Linked DNA regions of Homo sapiens: all the other regions are linked to region 2. The links come from fine-mapping of genetic effects on gene expression. A gene starts in region 2. Each other region holds a variant in brackets. All regions are shown on one strand. Distances are between the middles of the regions. Region 1 overlaps PAG1 (phosphoprotein membrane anchor with glycosphingolipid microdomains 1). Region 2 holds the start of PAG1 (phosphoprotein membrane anchor with glycosphingolipid microdomains 1). Region 3 has its middle 23 kb from the start of PAG1. Region 4 overlaps LOC105375924 (a long non-coding RNA gene). Region 5 overlaps PAG1 (phosphoprotein membrane anchor with glycosphingolipid microdomains 1). Region 6 overlaps PAG1 (phosphoprotein membrane anchor with glycosphingolipid microdomains 1).

Evidence for each region.
Region 1: its variant is fine-mapped to the expression of PAG1 in whole blood (TOPMed, PIP above 0.99).
Region 3: its variant is fine-mapped to the expression of PAG1 in whole blood (TOPMed, PIP above 0.99).
Region 4: its variant is fine-mapped to the expression of PAG1 in whole blood (TOPMed, PIP above 0.99).
Region 5: its variant is fine-mapped to the expression of PAG1 in whole blood (INTERVAL, PIP above 0.99).
Region 6: its variant is fine-mapped to the expression of PAG1 in whole blood (TOPMed, PIP above 0.99).

Annotation. Positions count from the first base shown.
Region 1 is chr8:81,081,280-81,085,370 of GRCh38, forward strand. All of the region lies in intron 1 of PAG1 (phosphoprotein membrane anchor with glycosphingolipid microdomains 1), which reads right to left. Among named protein-coding and RNA genes, the nearest start is that of PAG1, 29 kb to the right of the region's middle. The variant A/G (reference allele first, on the strand shown) is at 2,078.
Region 2 is chr8:81,109,778-81,113,868 of GRCh38, forward strand. It overlaps PAG1 (phosphoprotein membrane anchor with glycosphingolipid microdomains 1), which reads right to left and starts at 2,291. Exons shown (of 9, transcript NM_018440.4): 1 at 1,814-2,291. RefSeq lists an enhancer at 1,737-1,806 and a silencer at 2,297-2,426.
Region 3 is chr8:81,133,161-81,137,251 of GRCh38, forward strand. No RefSeq gene overlaps it. Among named protein-coding and RNA genes, the nearest start is that of PAG1, 23 kb to the left of the region's middle. The variant C/T (reference allele first, on the strand shown) is at 2,063.
Region 4 is chr8:81,159,516-81,163,606 of GRCh38, forward strand. LOC105375924 (a long non-coding RNA gene) reads left to right here. Exons shown (of 2, transcript NR_188114.1): 2 at 1-10. Among named protein-coding and RNA genes, the nearest start is that of PAG1, 49 kb to the left of the region's middle. The variant G/A (reference allele first, on the strand shown) is at 1,833.
Region 5 is chr8:80,967,242-80,971,332 of GRCh38, forward strand. PAG1 (phosphoprotein membrane anchor with glycosphingolipid microdomains 1) reads right to left here. Exons shown (of 9, transcript NM_018440.4): 9 at 569-4,091. Among named protein-coding and RNA genes, the nearest start is that of ZNF704, 95 kb to the left of the region's middle. The variant C/T (reference allele first, on the strand shown) is at 2,486.
Region 6 is chr8:81,072,277-81,076,367 of GRCh38, forward strand. The region is part of intron 1 of PAG1 (phosphoprotein membrane anchor with glycosphingolipid microdomains 1); the gene reads right to left. Among named protein-coding and RNA genes, the nearest start is that of PAG1, 38 kb to the right of the region's middle. The variant T/C (reference allele first, on the strand shown) is at 2,442.

The DNA of each region.
Region 1 (4,091 bases), 28 kb before region 2:
GTTCTTTATATATGATATAGCATTGTGTTTTCAAATTGATGTAGCTACAAGAAATTTTTAAAAGTTATTTTTTAAATTAAATTTTAAAATTTTAGATAGTTATAGATTCACAAGCAGTTACTTATAATAAAGAGGGATCTCATGTACCCACTGCTCAGTTTCCCTCACTGGTAACTTCTTGCAACACTATATTACAACATTACAACTAAGGTAAACACACTGATAGAAGGAAGATATAGAACATTTCCATCACCAAGTATTACTCATGTTGCCCTTCTGTAGCCCCACCCACTTCCCTCCTGTCCCTACCACATCCTTAACTCCTAGCAATCGTGAATCTCATCTCTATTTGTACGACTTTATCATTTAAAGAATGTTATATAAATGGAGTCATGTTACATGTAGCCATTTGGGATTGGGCTTATTCACACAGCATGGCTCTCTGGAGATGCACACTAGCTGCTGCATATATCAATAGCTCCTTTGTTTTATTGTGGAGTAGTATTCCACGATATGGATGTACCGGTTTGTTCAGCCACTCATCCATTAAAGGATATTTGGGTTATTTCCAGTTTTGACTATTACAAATAAGGTTGCTATAAGCATTAATACACAGGTTTTTGTGAGAATGTGACTTTATTTCTCTGGGATTAAATGCTGAGGAGTGATATTGCTGTATCTCAAAATCCTTGGCCGGGTATGGTGGCTCACGCCTGTAATCCCAGCACTTTGGGAGGCCGAGGCAGGCAGAACACCTGAGGTCAGGAGTTCAAGACCAGCCTGGCCAACACAGCGAAACCCCATCTCTACTAAAAATACAAAAATCAGCCAGGCATGGTGGCACACACCTGTAGTCCCAGCTACTCGGGAGGCTGAGGCATGAGAATTACTTGAACCTAGCAGGCAGAGGTTGCAGTGAGCCGAGACTGTGCCACTGTGCTCCAGCCTGGGCAACAGAGTGAGACTCTGTCTCAAAAAAAAAAAAAAAAAAAAAGAAAAGAAAAAAAAATCCTGAAATTAATTACCTCTGCAAAATCCCTTTTACTACATTAAAAAATAAAAAGAAAAAAGGAACCTGATTCCCTAGTTCTGGGAATCAAGACATGAACATCATTGGCGGGGGAGCCATTATTTGGCCTACTACACTCAACTCCTTGTATCTGTAGGTTTCAGTCTTCTGTTAAATGTGGCAAGTCTTCAGCTATGATTGCTCAAGTACTTTTCCAGCCCCTCCCTCTTCCTATGCTTCTTATGGGTCTCTAATGACACAAATGGTAAATGTCAAGTGTAGTTCCACAGGTCCTTGAGGCTCTCTATTCTATTTTCTCTCTAGTGTTGAGACAAAATAATTTTGATGGTTCTCTCTTTACTGATTCTTTCCCCTGTCCCCTGCATTCTGTTGTCCAGCCCATCCACTGAGATTTTTATTTGGGTTACTGTATTTTTCTGTTCTAAGATGCCCCCTAGGTTCTTCATTATATTTCTTATTTATTTCCTGAGGTTTCTATTTTTTCATTTGCATCCAGCATGTTTAGAATTCCTCAGTGATGCATTTTTATGATGGCTGTTTTAAAATCCTTAGCAGACAATTCTAACATCCCTGTCATTTTGGTGCTGGCCTCTGTTGACTGCTTTTTTTTTTCTTCATTCAGTGTGAGATCTTCCTGGTTTTTGGTATCACAAGTGATTTTTTTTTTCATTGAAACCTGGACATTTTGGGTATTATGTTATGAGACTTTGGATCTTACTTAAACTTTCTATTTTAGTTGCCTTCCTCTGTTACCACTCCCAGAAGGGAATGGGGAGACTGTGTTATTATTGCTGGTTCATCCTGATTACTGGGGTAGAATCAGGTTCCCTACTACACCTCCCCTGATACCTGAGGGGGATGCATTCTTACTGCTAGTTAGGAGTGGGAGTTTTGGCTCTCCATCGGGCCTCCAACAATACTTCCTGGCTGGGAGAAACAGTGTTTCTGGTTCCCACATGATGTCCACTAACACCACCCCAGTTGGAGAGGAAAAGGGCTCCTCATTACTGTTAGGAGTTGGGGAGGGTAGAAACCCAGGTTCCGCAT[A/G]TGGTTTCTACTTACATGGGGTTGAGGTGGAGGCTCTTGTTACTACGCAGCAGAAATAAAAGCCTTGGCTCCCTACTCAGTTTTCTGTGACACTACCCAGTGGCGAGGGCTGGGGTGCCTTGGGACACCCCAGCTCTCAATTTAGAGCTGGCAAGGGTGGAAGTTTAGGCTTCCCTATCAGCTTTTGCTGGTAGGGTGAGGCCACATTTTTTTTTCTGTGGGGCTTGGCTAGAGTACAACAGTTATTATCTAAAAGTTTTCCATTTTGCTAGGCTCTACCTTTTCTAGTCCTCTGGTTTCAGAAAACAGATTTTCATCTTTTACTTATTTGTTTTTGTATGTGCCTGTTGGTGTTTTCCACTTGCTGCCTTCTTCATCAGGAATATATGGGATCTCAGTCAGGTGTGGTGGCTTACACCTATGATCCCAGCACTTTGGGAGGCTGAGGCGGGTAGATCACTTGAGGTCAGGAGTTCAAGATCAGCCTGGCCAACATGGTGAAACCCCATCTCTACTGAAAATATAAAAATTAGCCAGGCGTGGTGGTGCATGCCTGTAATCCCAGCTACTTGGGAGGCCGAGGCAGGAGAATCACTTGAACCTGGGAGGTGGAGGTTGTAGTGAGCCAAGATGGCACCACTGCACTCCAGCATGGGCAACAGAGCGAGACTCCATCTTAGAAAAAAAAAAAAGGGAATATGTGAGCTCTGGGAAATACGACTCAAAAAGAAGAAAAGCCAGGTAACTCACTATTGTGTGTTGCTTGGGTTTTGAGGTCTATAGATATTCTGCCATCTTTCCTCTACCTTTCAGAGTCTTCTTACGTTTGTTTTATGAACAATGTCTAGGAATTTTAGTTGTACTTAGTGGGAAGAACAGGGAAAAGTATGTCTACTCCATGTTCCTGGAAATAGAACAAATTTTTCATTTCATTTTGAGGTTAAAAATTAGAAACCTCATTAAGTAAGGACATTGCATTTGCTATGCTGAAAAGGCTGCATCCAATAGTAGCAAAAGTTTACATAAAATCAATTTAAATACTTTCAAAATACTTTAAGAAAAACTTCAAAACCATGTATTTAACCCTTAAGAAAATCAATTTTAAAATAATATATTTTAAAGTTCTCAAAAGGTACCCAAATGATGTTAGTTAACTTTTTGTTTCAATATATTTCAAGAAAATGAAAGGAAGGGACTTTTTCTATGTGGGTGTCATTTTGCAATTATTACCCTTAATACGAGAGGTTTTTAGTTTTCTTCCTACTTTGGTAATTATTTGAAGGCTTCTTTCTTTCCTAAGCTGTCTATAAGAAGTGGCTACACAGGTCTTACGTAAGATTATATTTATATTATCTCAAAAATTTTCTTCCCAATGGCTTTTTATGGGATTTAAGAGAACTGGATGTACATTATGAGTGTCAGTCACGATATTAGAGCAGACAAGTGCCAAAAATTACATCTATTTTCCTTTAACCAACCCTTTATTATAAGCAAAATGTACAGAGTGGCAAAAACACAGTGAAAAGTAATGGAAATCTATGTGAAATACATTAAGATGAAGTCCGTTTTCTTTTTTTACAGTTCAACATGAAAGGTTACTGTTAAGAAATTTGAGAGAAAGTATCAGAGTCAAATAAGATACAATGAAGGGCAAGAAATGTATAAATACAAATACTCTTCAAATTGATGAACGCACTTTAAAACAATCTAGGAGTAGCTCTGAGTTAAGATGGTTGTTGGGCCTTTACTTGGAATAGTTCTTAGAAAAATCAGGGCTCTGATTTTATGCTCCATGTGCCAATTAGAAGCAAATGGCGATTCCTCCGGCTAGACTCTAAATTCATCACATTATTGCTTCATATAGCCATTTTCTCTTCCTTCGTTGAACAGAAGGAAACTGCATGGTACAGTAGTCAGTGAAATGTAAAATAAGGATTAACAAGCCATTCTGGAGATTTAGCAAAATGAAGCTTCATCAACCAGCTTGACTCACAGCCAATCCAGCAAAAAGCAC
Region 2 (4,091 bases):
TCATCCCCATTGTACAGATGAAGACACTGAGGCACAGACTTTGGGTTACTTGCCTAGATTCAAACAGATGGTACCAGAGCTGGCAGCCTGGCTCCATAGCCTGTCCTCCTAACCAGGCTGCAATAGGGCTTAATGGGTCAATCTGTTTGAGATTCCATGCTTGGATGTAATCTCTTCTAGAGATAAGCACTGGATGCTCTCACAAACCGCAATGTGTTGATGTGACTAACTTTTCAACTTCTGAAATAACATTTTGTGTATTTTCTTAGTATTCCTAAAAAAAAACCCTTTACACTTTAAATAAGGTGCCTATAACTAGTTCATCTTGTTCTGCATGCTGAAATACCATAAATAAATGCACTTCTCTCTTCAAAGATTATGTAAATAAATCTTACATTAAAACATACCCCTGAGCTTTGGTTTAAACAATAATTTCAAGTCCAAATTAAACATTTATGTATGTGTATATATATTTAGCAGGAAAGTCTTAATATGACCTATTTTGTTAAACTAATGACATCTATACCCAATACTCCAAATATTCCTCTTATTTATAATATTCGCTGTGTAACAGTCACACAGCAGTACTGCATGGTACTTCAAAGTACTATTCCTTTTACAAGTTTAACCAACTCAGGTATTAAACATCAATGATGATAATCCATAGCTCTGCTTAAAAGGAATCTCTCGGGAACAGCTGAGAAAGAAAGGTTAAAGATTTCTATCCTTCAAAGTAGGGCACTGCAGCTACCTATAAATCATGCTCTTTGTTTATTAAGATAATTAGGCCCATCAGTACACTTAACTTTTAGACTCAACAATTGTCTGGCATGAACAATTTCCACTTTTTCTAAAACAAAGGGGATGTGTTCAAAAAGCGGTCCTCTGCATGCTCTCTGCACAATGCATGCTATTTTAAAACATGATTTATGGGTCTAATTCCTGGAGCTGCCTTGAAAAATATAGTGGGTTGTTCCTCCCATGCTCCCTATTAGGAGAAGACACTCCAATTTGAAGAGTGCACTCTGTTTCAGACTTCAGGCCGCTATATCATGTCAGCATTTTCAGTAAATACTGTTCAATTGGACTTTAAACAAATGGAATGGAGGGCCACAGCTGCAGCCACTGCAGAGATAAAGTTATCCAGCCGGGAGGCTTACATAAGAGGTGCAGGACAATCAGGGTGAAATCCAAGTGTCATTATCTGAATCCTATTTCTTGAGACTTGCCTACATTCTTAAAGTGTATGAATTCACACGCCCAGAGCTCGTTTTATTTGCCTTAGGGCATAAAACACCGGGTCGACATATAAGTTGTTTTTTCCCTAAAGGACTAGGCTCCAATTATGAAAAGGTTGGCAACTTCTGCCTAGGGGAAGAGTAAAGCGGGATGCGCGGGAAGCCTGCAGGCCTGAAAGAAATGGCTCGCCCAAAGATCCATCGCAGTGCTGGCCACACTCCCCAGAGGAATTAGGATGGAGGTGACAAGACCCTGCCCAGCCCCTTCACCCCAACGTAAACACAGAGTCAAGGAGCTTGGAATGAATAATTAGCACGCAGCAGTCGAAATGCCCTAGGAGTACCTGTCCTCTCCCAGCATATTTCCAACTGGCACATTCGTGAGATGCTGAGGTCAGCCAGCCCTGGACTCCAGACCTTCCAGCTGCCTTGTCCCCTTCTTGGCACCCCGCACTCCCTCCTCGAGCTGGAACTCTGTTAACAAGAGGTGCCACCCTCGGCTTCCCACAAGAAGATAAAAACGAACCTCTCCTTCCCACGGCTCCCTCCAACTTCAGAAACTACAGTCAACTTACTGGGACTCAGGAGGCAGGGAGTCTTCCTGGCGGACGGCGCTCGGAGGCAGCCTCTGCAAACTCCGGCGCGCAGCGCCGCCGCCCCGGCACAGCCCGGCAGCAGCGGCAAGTGCAGGACCAGGCGCCGCCGCTCTGCACCAGTCGCCTTGGCTCAGCTGTGCCGGGCGCCGGGCATTCGCCAGGGCACACGACTCAGCGAGGCGGCGGCTGGGACTGAGGCTACTGCACCCGGCCGCGCGGACCCGAGCGCTGCAGCTGCCTCCAGCCCCGGAGCGCGGCGCTCCGAGCCCCTGGTGGGTGTCTCTGGCTCCAAGGGAATCACGGCTCAATTAGGGACCTGCCAGGAGAAAAACCGATGCGCTGCCGCAGGCAGAGCCGCCAGCCCGCCCCCAGTCGGCTGGTCACATCGCGGGCGCGCAGACGGACAAGCGAGCGGGAGGGTACCGCAGCCAGCACTCGCCGCCGCGCCGCGGAGAATGACAGGCGCCGAGGCGGAGCAGCCGCGCGGGGAGCGGGGCGCGAGTGCGCATGATCCTGGCCGCAGCGGCACGTCACGGGGGAGGAGGGGCGGGCCGCGGGGCGGGAGGGGGCGAGCCGGGCGGGGCCGGGCTGGGGGTGCACACGGGTGAGGACCGGCGCGGGGCCTGGCTTGCTCGCGGGAGGATGCAGGAAGTCTTCCCTGCCCTGATTTTATGAACCCAAAGCTCTGTGGTTGAACTTGTCCCAGGAGCCCATTGTCCTTTAAACAGCACCGTTTAAGCGGTCCTTAAGGTCCCTGGGGAGCCCACAAAAGCCAATTTAATTCAGGTTACAGCTTAACCGTAAAGGGTTGCCATTTGGGGGACAGTGATCTTCTATTGTGGCTGTGCATTAAAATAACTTGGGGAGCTTGTAAGAACCCTTTGCCCCGGACGCATCCCAGAACAAGTACAGGACAATGTCTGGGTGGGGCCCACCCAGGTATCAGTAGGTATCTAAAGATACCAAGGTACAGCAGTGCTTCTCAAACCCTCAGTGTGTGACAGAATCTCCTGCGGATTGTGATGAGATGCAAGATTCAGATTCAGTAGGCCTGGGATAATGAGGGAGACATCCTTTCTAACAAGCTCTCGGAGGATGCCAATACTGGAGGTCCAGACCCCCATCCTTGCTACTTAACGTGTGATCTAGAGCCTGGAGCAGAGCTTCTGAAACAGTTGGCCTGTCTGACAGTCACCCGAGGGGCTTATAAAAAACGCAGAACAAATGCCCAGGCCGTACCCCCAGTGATAGTGGTTCTGGCTCAGCCCCTGGCAAAGGTGGGCTTCTAGAATTCCATTTGGCATCAACACTCTAAATAAATCTGATAGGGGTTTTGTTTGGGCCAAACTTCAAGTTTACACTAGCAACCTGGAATTGGGAATAAACTTTTGCACTTACAAGGAGACAAACCAAGTCTAGAACTCAGGACATCTGACTTTGAGTCAGGGATTCTAAACCAACGGGTGCTTTATCTGACTAGTCCCAATTTTCTAAAATTATGATGCATTACTTAGCAAGAAAAAACATATAAATGGCATTAAATATACACACACACACTCTATTGAACACTCGTTACACATATCATTAATGGGAGCTTAAAGGTGGCTGGGGAAGAAGGCTCATCAGGAGAGGGTAAGGAAGACAGTGATGGAGTAAGGGATGTTGTTAGTGTGTCGCAGAGGGAAGGGTATGTGGGAGGAAACAGTTTAGACTCAGCCTACAGCTTGGAAAAGCCCATTGGGGAAGCGGACCCAGGAACCAGACTTGGCCTCTTGCTTCAGAGCATGGTATGAAACTCAGGTGTTTAAGAACTTATGGAGTATAACATTTCACATACGTTACCTCACTGAAATTTCACAGTGGTCTCTTAAGTTGAATAATAATATAAAAAAGTATCCCCATTTTATATATTAAAGAAGACATCCTGGACATGAGTTGACTAATGGTGGAACTTGAATAAAAGTAGGGATCTCCGTGTTGGACTTGGCTTCTACAACTCTGGAGAAGAGGACAATTTAGACCTTATAAAGCAAATGGTTTCTGTGTTTACTAGTCACATCTTTTACAGGCTGTGCCTAAATTTGGAGTTAGGAAGGCTTTCATTCTTGTGGGGAGGAAATACATTTTGTGTCTTCCAGTTTTGCTACACTTGTTAGGATACACTTAGAACAAAATGTTCTAAGAGCAACCCGGTCCTAGGACATTGCAGTTCCACAGTGCAGGCTTCATTGAGGAGTTTGAAGGGCAATATTCACGT
Region 3 (4,091 bases), 23 kb after region 2:
GAAAAAGGATGTTGGATGTTATTTCTCTATCCAAAAGCCTTCAGTAACTCCTTTTTGGCCAGAAAATAATGCTGCAACATGCATTGAAGGTTTCTGAAAGCTTGACCTTGGCTTCATTTACACCTCTATTTTTAGAGTATTTCTCCCTAATTTCTATTTTCCAGCCACAGACAACTTCGCACCATAATCTGGAGTTTGAATGCAGTGTGAAGCCTCTGAGCTTTTGCTCACTCTGTTCCTATACCTCCATACTCTCCTGAGCCTCTCAAAATACTACCCTCCTTTCCATATCCAGGCAGGTGTCTTTCTTGAGCCATCTATTCAGAATGCATCACTTTTGTGTTCAAATACCGTGTGGTTCAGATGTCTACTTGGTGTGAATTTCACTTTACTTTATTTTATGTCTTTCCTTCAAAGATCTAGAAGACAGAAACTATATTTCTAGGACCCTGCTAGGTCTTGTGCTTAGTGGTGGTCATTTGATGAGTGTTTACTGAAAATAAATTAACCCAAATGCAGGAGAGGACGTTTGTTTGTGAGGAGGTGAGTTGCAGGAAGAAAGATGGAATCATCTAAGGAAAGTCAGAGACATTTCTGTACACATTGTCACTGAATTCTCTTTGCTTCTCAAGGAGAGGCCGAAGATTTCCTTTCCTGGAACTTGAAACAGAGTGTCCAGAAGGCTTGAGAGATAAGGGGCAGGGAAGCAAAGATGTCTTCCCTTTTATGGAACTCTTTGGGAGCCCAGCTCTAAAGGAGAGAATCAAATCCGTGTTTTCCTGTGTAATTCTTCCCTTTCTTTCTTACGTGTACCTGTGTGGTCCAGGATTCTCCCTCCTAGTTCTCGTGTGGTACCTGTGTGGTCCAGGATTCTCCCTCCTAGTTCTCGTGTGGTACCTGTGTGGTCCAGGATTCTCCCTCCTAGTTCTCGTGTGGTACCTGTGTGGTCCAGGATTCTCCCTCCTAGTTCTCGTGTGGTACCTGTGTGGTCCAGGATTCTCCCTCCTAGTTCTCGTGTGGTACCTGTGTGGTCCAGGATTCTCCCTCCTAGTTCTCGTGTGGTACCTGTGTGGTCCAGGATTCTCCCTCCTAGTTCTCGTGTGGTACCTGTGTGGTCCAGGATTCTCCCTCCTAGTTCTCGTGTGGTACCTGTGTGGTCCAGGATTCTCCCTCCTAGTTCTCGTGTGGTACCTGTGTGGTCCAGGATTCTCCCTCCTAGTTCTCGTGTGGTACCTGTGTGGTCCAGGATTCTCCCTCCTAGTTCTCGTGTGAAGATTAAACTGTGAAGTTTCTTCTCACGTCTGCTGATGTTTACCTTTGGGTCCCCATCACCCAGCCGAGGGCCTGACAGGGAGTGGGCACAGAGTAAATGGCTGGAGCAAGCTGCACAGAACTAACTGTGGCGTGCAGTGAGCGAGGAAGCAGAAATCTGATACTCAGAGGGCGATTGCGAAGGAATCACAGGGAGAATTACAGTGACTGAAAAGTAGCAGGAGGTGAAAGGACAGATGGCAGGATGCAGTAAAGAAAATGGAAGGGAGACACTTGGCTTTGCCATGATTAGTTGAACTAGACGACTTTGGACCCACAATAGAAGTAGAAATATTAATTGGATTCAAGTTAGCAAGTCTTTATTGCACGCTCATTTCTACAATGAGCCATCCTCATTTCTGTAGCTGAGTAAAAAAAAGAGTAGAAGAATATGACTAATTTCTGATTGCAAAGTAATTATAGTTCAGTTGAAATACATGTACAAACACACGTGAGATTGTTTAATTATGACACAGTAGAATATGACATCGAACTTCTTTCCCCTGCTGCATTTAACTTACCCATGAGTCTGAATGGCTTAATGTACAAAATAGACCCCATATCTGCCAACTTTTCTCCATGTTCCCCATACAAAGTCTCCACCTCTTTTGTCTCCCCTGGACCTGCAACAACCTCTTAACTGGTCTGCCTCATTCTAACTTTGTACCCTCATGGTCCATTCTCTGACCAGTAGTCAGAGAGATCTTTCAAAAAACACAAATCCTGTCTTGCCACTCTCCTGCAGAAAACC[C/T]TCCCATGCGTCTGGGTGCACCTGGAGTAAAAGGTAAAGTCCATGCGGGATCTAACTCTTGCCTGACTCTCAGCTCCTCTCTTCATGCCTCTCAGCATGCTTCCCTGTGCTTACTCTCCTCCTGCCACACCGCCCTTCTTCCTGTTCCCCCTATCTTTGCAGGGCTGGCTCCTTCTTGTCATTCAGGTCCCAGCTCAGATGTCACCTCCTCAGTGAAGCCTTCCCTGACTATCCCCCCAACCTAAACTATCTGTCCCCTCTCCAGCCACTTTCTTGTATTACCCTGTTATAGAGCTTCATAGTACTTAGCAGCATCTGAAATGTGTAAAATGCATTTATTGTCTGTCCCCGCCTCCCAGAATGTCCCCAGCTCCTTAAGAGGAGAGATCTCGTTTGTCTTTTTCATTGCTCTATTCCCAGTACCTAGCCTGATATCTTGTGCATAGGCAGCTCTCATCAAATAGTTATTGGGTGAATGAATAAAAAACAGGAATTATTAGAGACAAAGAATGGAGATTGTAGCTCAGGGTAGTTGGGCAAAGTGCTTGGAGGAAGAAATATTATTTTAGCTATGAAGAATGGTGTGGGGAACAGAGGCTAAGAAGCAGCAATGTGCACATTTTTGTCAAAGGAAGACCCTGGCCAGGCTGGAGCAAAAGGTACACAACAATAACAGTGGGGCAGGTGTCATGACAGGGAGTTAAATTTGTATGGAATCAGAGGGCAAAAGAAAGTCATTACACTGCCAAACTGTGTGTGTGTGTGTGTGTGTGTGTGTGTGTGTGTGTATTTTGCCTTAGGTGGCAAGACATTGAAATTCCACAGGGTGCCTAAGAGCTAGGATATCTATTTATCATCTTATTTCCAATTTTGACAAATATGAAACAAATTATAGTCCCTGAATCATGAACATAATGAAAAAAAGTTAGTCGACCCCATATATTTCATATTTATGCCAGTGATGGTGATTTGATTTGATTTTTTGTCTCCTCTGTTTCTCATGAAGTGGTTCACTATTTTGATAGAGCAGCTCCCTGAATTATTCAATCGAGGAATAGTTTTCGTTTGCTTGATGTTTCATTTTCTCTCAGGAATGGCCCTTATAGAATATGCATTTCTTTTCCTTGAGTGAGATAATGTATGTGAAAGTACTTTGCAAACCATCAGGCGCTAAGGAAATGGAAGGTAGAATGATTATTACCTTTTAAGGTCTTAAGAGACATAAACTACTAACAGCATCATCTTATTGCTCTGCTTTTCTTGCTTTTTGTTGCTGTAAAAAGAACTATTTCCTCTCAAGAGATTATTCTCTGCTACAGTCGGGAGGCAAACATGTTTGTCTATACATCGTCCAGTTACTACCTCTAAGAAAATTAACAAAACTCAGATGTTCCTGAGATAAATGTTGGATAAACCATTAGTTGTAGAGAATATTCTTTGTCCAGAAGAACAAAAATATTAAAATTCTGCCGATTTTAAAAAAGCGCTTCTTCCTGACATCCCTCCTTGGCTCTTCCCTTGTGAGCACAGAATGTCCACATGCAGACTCGGGAAGAGTGGCAGTTCCTGTGATCACCTAAGTTGCCATGGACGGCAAGGATTGGGAGACTTCAGTTTTATGTTCTAGTTACCAGTGAAACTGCCCCATTAAATATTTTAAGGAACACATTCGAAGTATGAAAATATTTTCTAAAATAGAATCCATCTCTTCGTTTGTCCTCTAAATATAGCTGATGTGTCCATCATGGGACCTGATCATAATATTTTTATGGTGACATTGATGCTTTCTTTGCAATTTTTGAAAAGTAATAATTTTCTCCATGTTATAGCTATCATAGGAAAAAGCTGTTCTTGGAAATACTGGGATGCCTGGGCCCATCTCCATTAAAAAAGCGAGACTTCAGCAGCCACAAAAAGGAAAGAGATCATGTCTTTTGCAGGGACATTGGTGGGGCTAGAAGCCATTATCCTAAGCGGACTAACACAGGAACAGAACAGCAAACACCGCACGTTCTCACTTATTAGTGAG
Region 4 (4,091 bases), 50 kb after region 2:
AATCAAGGTATATAGATAAGTATAGTGGTCTTATATTTAGCCTCAAACTGAAATTTATGTCTTATTTTATTATGGTTACTTAATATTTTAAAAGACTATGATTCATCGGGCGTGGTGGCTCACGCCTATAATCCCAGCACTTTGGGATACCGAGGTGGGTGGATCATGAGGTCAGCAGTTCGGGACCAGCCTGACCAACATGGTGAAATCCCATCTCTACTAAAAATACAAAAATTAGTGGGGTAGGCATGGTGGCGGGCACCATATATCCAACATTATGGTACAGTCATTTGTTGCATAACAACATCTCAGTCAACCATGGACTGCATATACAAGGAATGTGCCATAAGATTATAATACTGTAACTTTACTTATCTTTTCAATGCCTGTAATCCCAGCTACTCAGGAGGCTGAGACAGGAGAATCGCTTGAATCCAGGAGGCGGAGTTTGCAGTGAGCTGAGATCGCGTCATTGCACTCCAGCCTGGGCAACAGAGCCAGATTCTGTCTAAAAAAAAAAAAAAAAAATGGACTATGATTCATAGAGTCAAATAGTTATAAATATTAACAATCTCAGAATTTTATTTTATTTTATTGTATTTACTTATTTATTTATTTATTTTTTTGAGACGGAGTCTCGTTCTGTCACCCAGGCTGGATTTCAGCTCACTGCAACCTCCAGCTCCTGGGTTCAAGCAATTCTTCCACCTCAGCCTCCCGAGTAGCTGGGATTACAGGCACGTGCCACCGCCCCCATGCCCGGCTAATTTTTGTATTTTTGTAGAGACGGGGTTTCACCAAGTTGGCCAGGCTGGTCTAGAATTCCTGACCTCAAGTGATCCACCCGCCTCGGCCTCCCAAAGTGCTCGGATTACAGGCGTGAGCCAGCATGCCTGGCTTCAATCTCAGAATTTTCTATTAAACAGAAGGAACAGAAAAACTTTCTGAAATTTGCATAAAGTTATTTTATATTGCATAAGTTAACATGTTGATGGTATTCAGTGATAAATTTTATGTATATATATTATTTAAATCATTCATTTATTCAACATATAGTTATTTACCATGTGCTATTCTCAACAGCTAGTTATTTACCAAGGCCTTATTCTCAATCATGTACCCTCAATATGGTGATAATATGCCAAGGGAGAAAATATTAGTTATTGAGGGTGAAAAATGTTAGATATTGAAATGGTTTGTGGCCCCCCAAACATAATCATATATACAGCCTATCTGTGGTATTAAAATTTCATAGGGTGGCGATTAGGAAAAAAGATGCCTGAAAAAGTCCTAGGGGAACAATAATGAAAAAAATATTGAGAAATACTTTTTCAGATACTGGGAAAACAGCAATGAACAACACGGAAAAGAAAACCCCTGTCCCGATGGAGGTGATTTTCTCATGGGGAGGATGAGCTAACAATAAACAAGATAAATAAGTAAAATATATAATGTGCTATGGAAAGAAAAAAAGCAGCACAGGACAATGAGAACAGTCAATTAAAGGAAGGAGATAGGAAGTGGATGTGTGAGAGAAAGGGCATTGGCACTAGCTAAGGTGACCATGGAAATCTGAGTAAAGAAATTCATGGTCGAGGGAGCAAGGGAGGAGCTCTCCAGAGATGGAACAGGCTGTGCAAAGGCCCTGTGGAGAGAGCGAACCTGGCACACCGGAGGACCAGCAAGCCTGTGTTCTGGGTGAGGAGGCCAGGAAGGGTATTAAAAGGCCATGCCAAAAAGTTCACATGGCCCAAGTCACAAGGGTTATGTAAAAACCTTTTGTAATGTTCATGAGAAAAGAAGAAGTCATGGGTGTGTTCTGAGGAGGACAT[G/A]ATGTAATCTGACTTACGTTTTTACCAGGATCACTCTCAGCACAATGCTGAGAATGGGCTGAACAAGGCAAAGGGAACGCCAAGCAACTAGTTGGGAGGGGTACTAGGTGGCTCAGGCTGCCAAAAGAAAATAGCACAGGCTGGGTGTCTTAAACAACAGACATTTATTTCTCATGGTTTTGGAGGCCGTGAAGCATAAGACCAAAGTACCAGCAAGGTAAGTGTCACTGGGAGGCCTCTTCTCTTAGCTTAAAGGCAGCCACCATCTCGCCATGTGTTCATATGGCCTTCCCTTGATGGGTGTGCCTGGGTTGGGGGAGGAATTAGGAGAGGAAGAGGAAGAGAGGGAGAAAGAGAGCGCTTTCTTGTGAGCCTTCTAATAAGGACACTAATCCATTGTACCAGGGCTCCACCCTCATGACCTCATCTAACCTCCCAAAGGCCCTGTCTCCAAATACCAGCACATTGCAGGTTAGGGCTTCACTTATGAATTTTGGGGAGACATAGACATTCAGTCCACAACAAGAAGCTACTGCAATAATCCAGGTGAGGGATGATGGGAGTTTGGACAACGTGGTATGGTAGACAGAAATGGTTGGACCGTGAATGGGGTTTTAAAGGTAGAGCAGACAGAGCAGTGTTGCTTGATCTAATGTGGAAGATGAGAGAAGAGAGGAGTCAAAGATGTCTAAGGGTTTTGCATACACAGGTTATCAGTATTATTTTTACTATGGTTTTCAATATTGATAAGTTGAACAGGATGCACCAAAGCACTTAAGATTCTTTGGAACACTAGAGTTTGAAAATGTTTGGTCTAAAGAGTCTTAATTTGTAAATAAATGTGAGAGGCATTTGAAATTAAATTTATTTTTGTTTGACACAATGGCTGGGAACACCTGGCATTTAAAGGACAGGGGCCAGGGATGTAAGCAATCTTACAATGCATGAGAGAGTTCTGCACAAAGAAAGAAATGTTCTGTCACTAATTCTAACAGCACTCCTATTGAGGAACACTGGTGGAGTTGTTTTCATGTATTTGTTATCTTTTTAAAATATTTTATTGCACTTTGATGCAACAGAAAACAGTATCTTTCGCTGCCAATTATTTCAGGTACAGTTTCCCCCAGCTAAGTTCTAAAGGCCTTGAGGGCAGAAGTCATCTTGTATATTTCTCTTGTATCCTTATACAGTGAAAGCAGAAAAATACCTTTATTTTGCTATGTCTCTTGTTTTCTCCATATGCAGTGGCATACTCTCATTTTATCCATTTCTGACAGGAATGAAAGAAAAGATATACGCAAAGTGGATTCTAATCATAGGTGAGGACTAATTTTTGTTTTAAGGACTCAGCATGCAGGAAATAATATACAAGTATTAGCTCTTATTAATGATAACAATGGGAGGCATATATAATTTCTTGATTAAAGCAAATGCCAGCCTTAGTTATCAGGTTTTCTTTTTGTCATCACTTTGCCCATTTTCTTAAACTCATATCTTTACAATAGAATTAAATTTTTTTTGGCTAAATCAATCAACAAAAAGTCTATTTTCTAAATCACAACATAATCCCAACTCTCTAATAGTTATTTCTTCGTGTTATTTCACAAATTTTGTCCACATGTAGTTAATTTTTAAAAATAAAATCTTTATTTTTTAGAGCAGATTTCAGATCACAGAAAAATTGAGTGGAAGATATAGAGATTTCCCATATGTCCCCTGCCCTGAGACATGTATAGCCTCCCCCATGATCAACATTCCCCTCTAGAATGCTACATCCATTACAGTTAATGAACCTACATTGACACATCATTATCACCCGAAGTCCATAGTTTACATTAGGGTTCACCCTTGGTGTTGTACATTTTATGGGTTTGGATAAATGTATAATGACCTATATCCAACATTATGGTACAGTCATTTGTTGCATAACAACATCTCAGTCAATCACAGACTGCATATACAAGGATGGTCTCATAAGATTATAATACTGTAACTTTACCGTATCTTTTCAATGTTTAGATATGTTCAGATACACATATACTTACCATTGTGATATAATTGCCTATAATATTCAATGTAGTAACATGCTGCCTAGGTTTGTAGACTAGGAGCAATAGGCTGTATGTGTAGGCTACAGCATCCAGATTGGTAGAAGTATATTCTGTGATGTTCGCACAGCAATGAAATTGCCTAATGGCGCATTGCTCAGAATGTTTCCCTGTTGTTAAGTGATGCATGGCTACGTCATACAGAGTAGTT
Region 5 (4,091 bases), 140 kb before region 2:
GGCAGCCAGGTCAGATGGTGGTTAAAGTCATTTGCTCTGAGACATCCTGCTGGGGCTGCATCCCCTTCACACAACAAGCAGATGGATTTTCCTCTTGGCCTGGGGAATTATTTGCTCTCAGGTTGCACATCTTCATAGGAGTGCTTGGCAAGTGTGGGTAAATGCCATCAAAAATTTCCCAGCCCTTTTGTGAAGATGGTCTCTTACCATGCACAGAGCACTTAGCACCTTGCCAGGTACCATGCTTAATATCTCATTTAATCCCCAGGACAACCCCATTAGCAGGTTCTATACTATAATCCCCCATTTCCTAATGTGAAAAGGAGGGCACAAAGAAGTCTAACAGCTTCCTCAAAGTCATGATGGAGCCGGGATTCAAACTCGGGTCCTTTTCTGCAAAGTTTTTGATGCTAACCTCTACACACTTTGGTCTGATTACCAGGAACATTATCTTTCCTGTTATGGTGGTGAGTTGACTGCTGGAATCCCAAAACCCTGGTAATGTATGAAAGGTACATAAATTAGCCATTCTTGACCTTTTCAAATACCAAATAAATTTTAACAAGCCTTTATGTAAAACTGACTTTTATTACAATTAAAAAAGAACAAAGACAATTTGATAAGTGCCTTTAATTACAACATACCTGCTATTTACATGTAATCATACTTTTATATATAGCTTGAATAAGTTTTATTACATGTAAACTATAAGATATTACAAGTTAAACTCCAGTCTTTTCTGGATATTCAATTGAAATACTACTGGCAGAAACATACGAAAACAAATACCCATTTCAGTTCCTCAGGTACCATTACTGGTTGAATGATCAAGATCTGGCCACAGAAGAGAAGTGGAAATATGCATCAAAACAAAACTTATTCTTAACATGACTAACAGTATTGTTATTTAAACCCTAAACATAATTAATAATTGGATCATTAAAAACACAACTTCAATTTATATAGCACCTTTCTTCCGAAGAGTTGAAAGCATTCGTGCTTATCTCTATTATTTCGTTTGTCCCCATAACATCTCTATGAGGTAGGCAATGGTTAGTATCATTATCCCCATTTTGTATATGGAGAAACTGAGGCACAGAGAAGTTAAATCATTTGCTCGAGGTCACATAGTAAAGTCAATGCTGGAACAGGGACCACAGCCCTGTGCTCTTGTCTCCAAAACCCATGTTTCCCTTTACACTAAATTGTCCCACTTGAGAATTTAATTCAATAACTCTACACTTTTCCAATAAATAAAAAAGTGCATTTTTTTCACCCATAAAAATTTTTGAAATACTATGAGCAAGATACAAACATTCTGGGATGGATGGTAGATGGATGCTACACTCTTCTAGAAAGTGCTTATGGAAATGTTTATTTTAATATGAGGAGTTTCTTTTCCTAGTTAAAACAAAGTAGATGTCTTTACAAGAAATATATTTGAAAAAATGCTTCTAGTCACCTACTCAATTATAGCTCTAGTAGCCATATTATATTATCTACAAACCAGGTTTATTCCTGAGTTTAAAAAGAAGAAAATATCTAAATAATAAGTTAAATCTTTGAGATAATTTTTCTCATTTACACACATTTACTCAAGAGACTCAGAGTGGCAGATAGGGAATTGGGCCAACACATTTCTCAGAGAGACATGAGAACTGAGACACACAGGGGCAGCAAGTCTGAATTTTGCTCTCATCTCTGCTCCCTTCGCCCCACTAGAGTCAACTATACGGTTGATACTCGAAGCAAATAAAAAGATAATTTTTAAAAAGTGTCAAGGTCGCAAGCATACTAGAATGCTCACAAATGTTTGCTGACTTGAACGTAAGGTTCAGCTTTCCTGATGCTTTTCACATTGCTTCTCCTCAAGACATGAGCATTGCTGCAGGCATGGCCATCTTCCAGGACATGGGCGGGTAGTGGCACATAGGAATTAAATCCTAGCATGGCTCCAGGAAAAACAAGACAAGTACTATACTCAAAAAGTAAAGTTAAAAAAAGCAAGCATGCTTAAGGGATGGGTCATGAACACCACATCAGGTTCATTTATGAGTCTTATATTAAAAATACATAGAAGCTTGTCAAAGGAATGCTCAAAATCCTCAACCCATAGACTCAGGCTTTTGGTCCCAGCCTCTTCTTCCAGAGAAGGGCACTGCTGTCTTTCAGGGAAGCCTTCACTACCTAAATGAGGAGCTAAAGATTAAAAAAAAAATTCTCTTTAAGCTTAAGAAAAGGAAATAGTTTGCTTTAAACTCATGGTTTCCAACTTGTTGAGTTAAAAACAAACCAAACCAAACCAGGACATGACAACAAGATAGTTCTGAACTGTAGGCTCTAGGGAGCAACTGGTCCTTCTTTTAGCTTTAACTGTGTCCTATTTAGAGTGCCTAACAGGTATACTAGGGGAACTTTAAAAAACTAAATGTATAAAGAGAATGAGCAGAGATATCTGTTCTGCTAATTTTGAAAAAAAGTTACA[C/T]TCTAAAATGTCCATTCAAAGAATTAACTGTGATGACTTACAGCAAAGTTTTACAAAACCAAATGAAACACCCTGGCTCCTGAAGTATGTAGAAAATGGGAACTTCAGCAGCTGCACCTCCAATTCACCTATCCTAGGACCTAGAAGGTGCTTGGTTTCTCACTCCAAAGTCAGGCAGTTTGCTATAAATGGCCAAGTTATTCTCCTTATCTGGTAGCTCTACCTTTGCATGCTGAAGCACTCACAGTTTTCTTAGGTCCTGGGGGATCAGAGCAAACTGGCTGTAACTTGACATCATCCTTAGGCACTGTTTCCTGGGGGAGAGGGTGCAATGGCTTCATGGTGAAAACATTTTACACTCAATTTACTTTAAAAAGGTTTTTTTTTTGTTTTTGTTTTTGAGATGGAGTCTTGCTCTGTCGCCCAGGCTGGAGTGCAGTGTTGCGATCTCAGCTCATTGCAACCTCTGCCTCCCAGGTTCAAGTGATTCTCCTGCCTCAGCCTCCTGAGTAGTTGGGACTACAGGCACATGCCACCATGCCTGGCTAATTTTTTTTGCATTTTTAGTAGAGACAGGGTTTCATCATGTTGGCCAGGCAGGTCTCAAACTCCTGACCTCAAGTGATCCACCTGTCTCAGCCTCCCAAAGTGCTGGGATTACAGGCATGAGCCACTGCACCCGGCCTAAAAATGATTACTTCTTATAAAAAGGATTTCTTCCCCTTCACAACACTCAGCTTCCTTTTTCTTTCCTGGTAACTATGGGTCTGGTGTTGTCATAAGGATCTACCTTCCACATGCTGGACAGTGGGGGTTGCTGCTTGAGGAGACTCAGGCCAGATACAGATCACTGTGGGGAACACTAAGCTTACTTGGTTAGAGCACGGCACTAACATTTCTGCCTCTGTGAGTTTGATTCCACCACATAATTTTTTAAAAGTGCTTTTCCATGGCCCCTTAGTGTCAACCATTCTTACGAAAGATGTGAGCAACAGTGTACATGTTTTGGCAAAAGTCGTGACAAATAGCACCAGCATCTGCCGCCCTAGGTGGACCTGTGGCCTCATCTTGGCAGCCTGTGAGTTGGGCAGAGCTGTGACGAGGCATGGTTCTGTGCCGGCTGGCAGGGTCTGTGATATGGCAGCACTGTGATCCGTACTGGAAAGACATAATGGCATGTCCTGTGAACAGCAGATACAGAAGGCTGAGTGGGGAAGCGACCCAGGGGTATTGCCACACAAAGCGATAGGCCAGCTAAGTACCAGGAGACAAACTGAGGTGGGAGGAAATAGTGACTTCATGGCCTCATTCTTTAGACTTACTCCTTAAAAGGACTAGATCCGGGGAGGGAAAAGTAATCACAAAATGTTCAAGCTAATAAGAGATATTTTTGGTCTTAAAACTAAGGTTTAAAAATTCCCAGTACTGAAAACAACTTTCTCACTCTTTTGTGAATTGGACAATTTGACCATTATGAAGATCTTTTGAAACAATCAATGAAAATGCTACTAAGTGTCATGAATTATTTTTTAATATTTTTGAGTAAGGGGAGTACTTTAATACTGATTGGGCCCATGTAATAGACAATATGTCACTTTTGGTGTAA
Region 6 (4,091 bases), 38 kb before region 2:
CATCCTTCTCAATTCTCTCCTTCATTTATTTAGAGTCCAATGAGGAAATAACTATAAACACCAATGTAAAATACATGCTCTAAAACAGGGCTTTCAACCCTGGCCTTGCTGACATTTGGGGCTGGAGAATTCTTTGTTTTGAGGGGCTAGCATTTCCTGCCCTGAGTTGTAATAAACAAAAATGTCTCCAGACTTCAACAAATATCCCCTTAGGAGCAAAATCATCCCCATGTTGAAAATCACTGGTCTAAAATGAATGATGACTTATTAAAACACAATAATTTGAGCATAGTGGCTCACACCTATAATCCCAGCTACTTAGGAGGCTGAGGTGAGAGGATTGCTTGAGCCCAGGATTTTGAGGCTGCAGTGATCTATGTTGTGCCACTACACTCCAGCCTGGGCGACAGAGTGAGGGCATCTCTTAAACACAAACACATACTCACATACTCTCATATTTATATCTTAACTTTCATATCATGCAGAAAAACAGTAGTGTGGATGGGGACCATTGGAAAGGGCATAGATGAGGGAGTGGGTGCATGTAAAAAGCACCTGTTGTATTCTCAGCCCTGCATGAGGTCAGTTATCTCATCCAATACGCACAAAACACCCTGTGCTTTTCCCTCTGCATCACAGCTGCTCAAAACCTTGAGAGACAATGATTTAGTGCATGCTGACAATGTTATTAAAAGCAGAACTCCTCAAAATAAAATAAGAAGTATTGCTAGATATGCCTTTCCTTCACTTTCAGTAGACTGAACGCCTGACTCCTTGAGAATGACCAGCACAACATATTTTCATGGCAATCAACTTCATTCTGTGCCATCTTAGGACATTTCCACTGCCAACTTGTCCTGTGGTTGTTTTCATCAGGATTGGCCCACATGGAGTCCTAGGCATAGCCATGATATATCTCTTTTCCTCAAACCACAGCGAATTAGGCATATTTAGCCTGCAGATTTGTAAAATAGAACTGGTTACAGCTCTGCTAGTGTCCCAAGTGAGTATGACAATGCTACGGAGTGCAGAGCAGTGTCGGGTGGTTAAATCCTGACTCACACTACCAACCTCCCTGAGAGCATCAAATGAGACAAGCGACAGGATTCTCAGATGGAATTTGATGTTGGTCCTTTCCCCTCCTGATCCCCAAAGGGCCTGGTGGGCTCAACAATCTCTAGTAAATTCAGCATATTCAGGTCCAAAAGTATCCCTGAACAGGGATCTTCCTTAGCCTTGTCTATTCAAAAAGACCGGGAGTGGCTTTTTAAATACATGTGTGGATATGCAGTTCTTCCTAGTTGGCTTTTTCTGATTCTGTCCAAACACAATCACATCTCCCATGCTAGTATCTATCCAAATACTTTCTTTAAGGAGAATGTCCATATGTCAGCCACTATTCTAGGTGGGGGTTTCGATATTGACCAAGATGAAATTCCCTGTCCTATGTATCTTTCTAGTGGAGGTGGGGAACAAACCCACCATCTAGCAGCATAGCTGTGACAATCACTGAAGAAAACCACAGAGGCACTGTGGAGGTAGGGACTGCCTGGGGAGTGGGCGCTGCTTTGAGTTGGGGAGTCAGGAAAGGCAGCACTGAGAAAATGTTAGCTGAGCACAGACCTGAAGGTGGGGGGGAGGCAGGTCAGAGGGGGCTGGTTCCACTGGCCCCTCCATGTGCCCACCTTGGGCACCCCTCAGAGAGCTACAGCATGCCTGGTGCTTCCACACCCACTGAGGGGAGCACTGGCCAGGTGTGGGCACACGTGCAGACATGTGGGCAGATCCAGGAAAGGCAGCAAGATTATTAGCTGAGAATGAGGATGGAGAGGGAGGTATTTGAGGTTTGAGGACAGGACACAAGAAGATGATCCAGAAAAGCAGAACAATGGACAGAATAGCGGCACAGGGACCCACTGAGACGAAAGTGGGACCTGTGAGCACAGTGATGTGTGTTCCTTCAGCCGCACTCACCAGTGTAGGTGAAGATGTGGCGTGGGGAGAGAGCTGTGTTACGCAGGGTTGGGGTTTTGCCAGTGAGGATCATGAGGGAAGAGGGAGCAGCAAAGAACCTGAGGGTGGATGCAAAAGAATAATTATAACACAAGATCATGGAATCTAAGCTAGATAACTAGGAAAGGAGAACTGGAGGGGGTGACAGACAAGGAAAATTAGCAGGATCACTGGATGGTGAGTACTGGTGGGCCACAAATGGTTGGAGTTAAGGCACAGGGGATAGAAGACAGAAGGTGGTGATCAGAGGATGAAATGGTTGAGGAGAGAGTGGATTAGACACTTGCTACTTAAAGTATGGTCCCAGACCAGCAGTTTCTGCAGTATCTGGGGACTTGCTGAAAATGGCAGAATCTCAGACCCTACCTCAGATCTACTGAATCAGACTCTGCATTCTAATAAGACCCCCAGGTGATTCACACTAAATT[T/C]GGGGAAAAACAGCCTTAAACCACTGTCACATCTGCACCATGCTGGCTCAATTTGCAGGCAACCAGAAGCCACAGACACCCTATAAAAAAGGGTGAGTGAATAGCATTCTGAGGTTAGGAAATTCCCTGGGGCTCTGTTTCCCCTTCAAACAGCTCCACTTTAAGTCGCTCATTTTGGTTTCTTGGGTTTCTATCCAGCTGCCTCATGCTCTTGTTCTGCCAGGCCTTGCAGTCTTATGATATGGTTAGCAGGCTTAAAATTCAATTTCCCAAAGAACGCTGCCCCTCCAAATGCTGGTTAGCCTTCCCTCACTGTCTGTAGGCAAAGAGCATCTCCTTACTTCCTGCAACCAGGTACCTATCTCCACTCTCGTTTGCCAGAGAGAAGGCAACCAGATACTTAGTGTCCTCAATTCAGCCTGTGTAATTCCATGTGTCCATATAGATCTATTCCAAGACCCTAATGCAAAATGTATAGTATTGCCATTTGTGGCTTTTTAGAAGTTTAGCTTCCTGCTATATAATAGTCAGGGTTTTGTATCTTCTAGTATGAGTAGACTGACTTGCCTCTTTATAATTTTATAAAAAAGAGAAAACAGTTGTGTATGACATTAGCATGAAAGATGAGGTTGAGTCTAGTTAATGGAGGCTTTGCCTCCTTAAAAGCTTTATTCATAATAAAATGAGTGTGACATTTTCATGAACCCAGACACTACCTCCTGTACAAACACTTGCATGTGAAATAATTAAGAATCTCTAACTTCTTTAAAGACAAGTAATTTCAGATGCTGTCGTGTATGAGTTTTACTATGATTACTAATAATCAAGTACTATTTGCAGACACCATGCTATACATTCCATATATCCTCATCTTACTTAATGCTCACAAGGATTCATACTATTGTTACACTGATCCTACAGATGGGGAAACTGAGGCCTAGAAATGTGAAGTGACACAGCCAGTGAGTGGTGGAGCCAAGTTTCAAACCCAAGTGCACCTGATTCCACAGCAGCTCCTCACGCACACACACAAGATAACACACAGCTGAAGCCCAAGAGCGTGGCACACACAGCTCCCTCCGCTTTCCCGCATCTCTGAGCATACACATAGTCACTACTAAATATTATATGTGCCTACTTGAGTTGAGAAGGTGTAAACAAGGGTCTCTAATCTCACTGTTGGTAAATATCTGATACAGAGACCCTTGCTTAGATGTGACCATTTTCTAGATCTGTGATAATTCTTGTAGCTCTTGCTAAGTTACAATAATCAATGAAATGAGCCATCCTGACATCACTCTGCTAACCTGTGATACAGTTATAACAAACTGGCTTATCACTACAGGTACCTGAACACAATCTCTGTTGGTTGGTGACCTGGCCTCCGGGAACAGAACCTGTTCTGCTTTCAAGAGAAAATGCCAGCAATGACTTCTTATCTGATCCTTTCCCACACCAAGGCAGATCAAGTCCTTAGGTCAGTTCAGCAAATGCAAATGTGTACAGAAGAAACAGAATCAAATCCAAAGCTTCCCATGTGAATTATCACAAGGCTTTGGACATACCAGTTTCCTTCTTGGTATCACCTAACAGCCCATGATTCAGAGATAACAATGTCTAGCTCTGCCTCCTTTGCTTCCCAAGGATGAT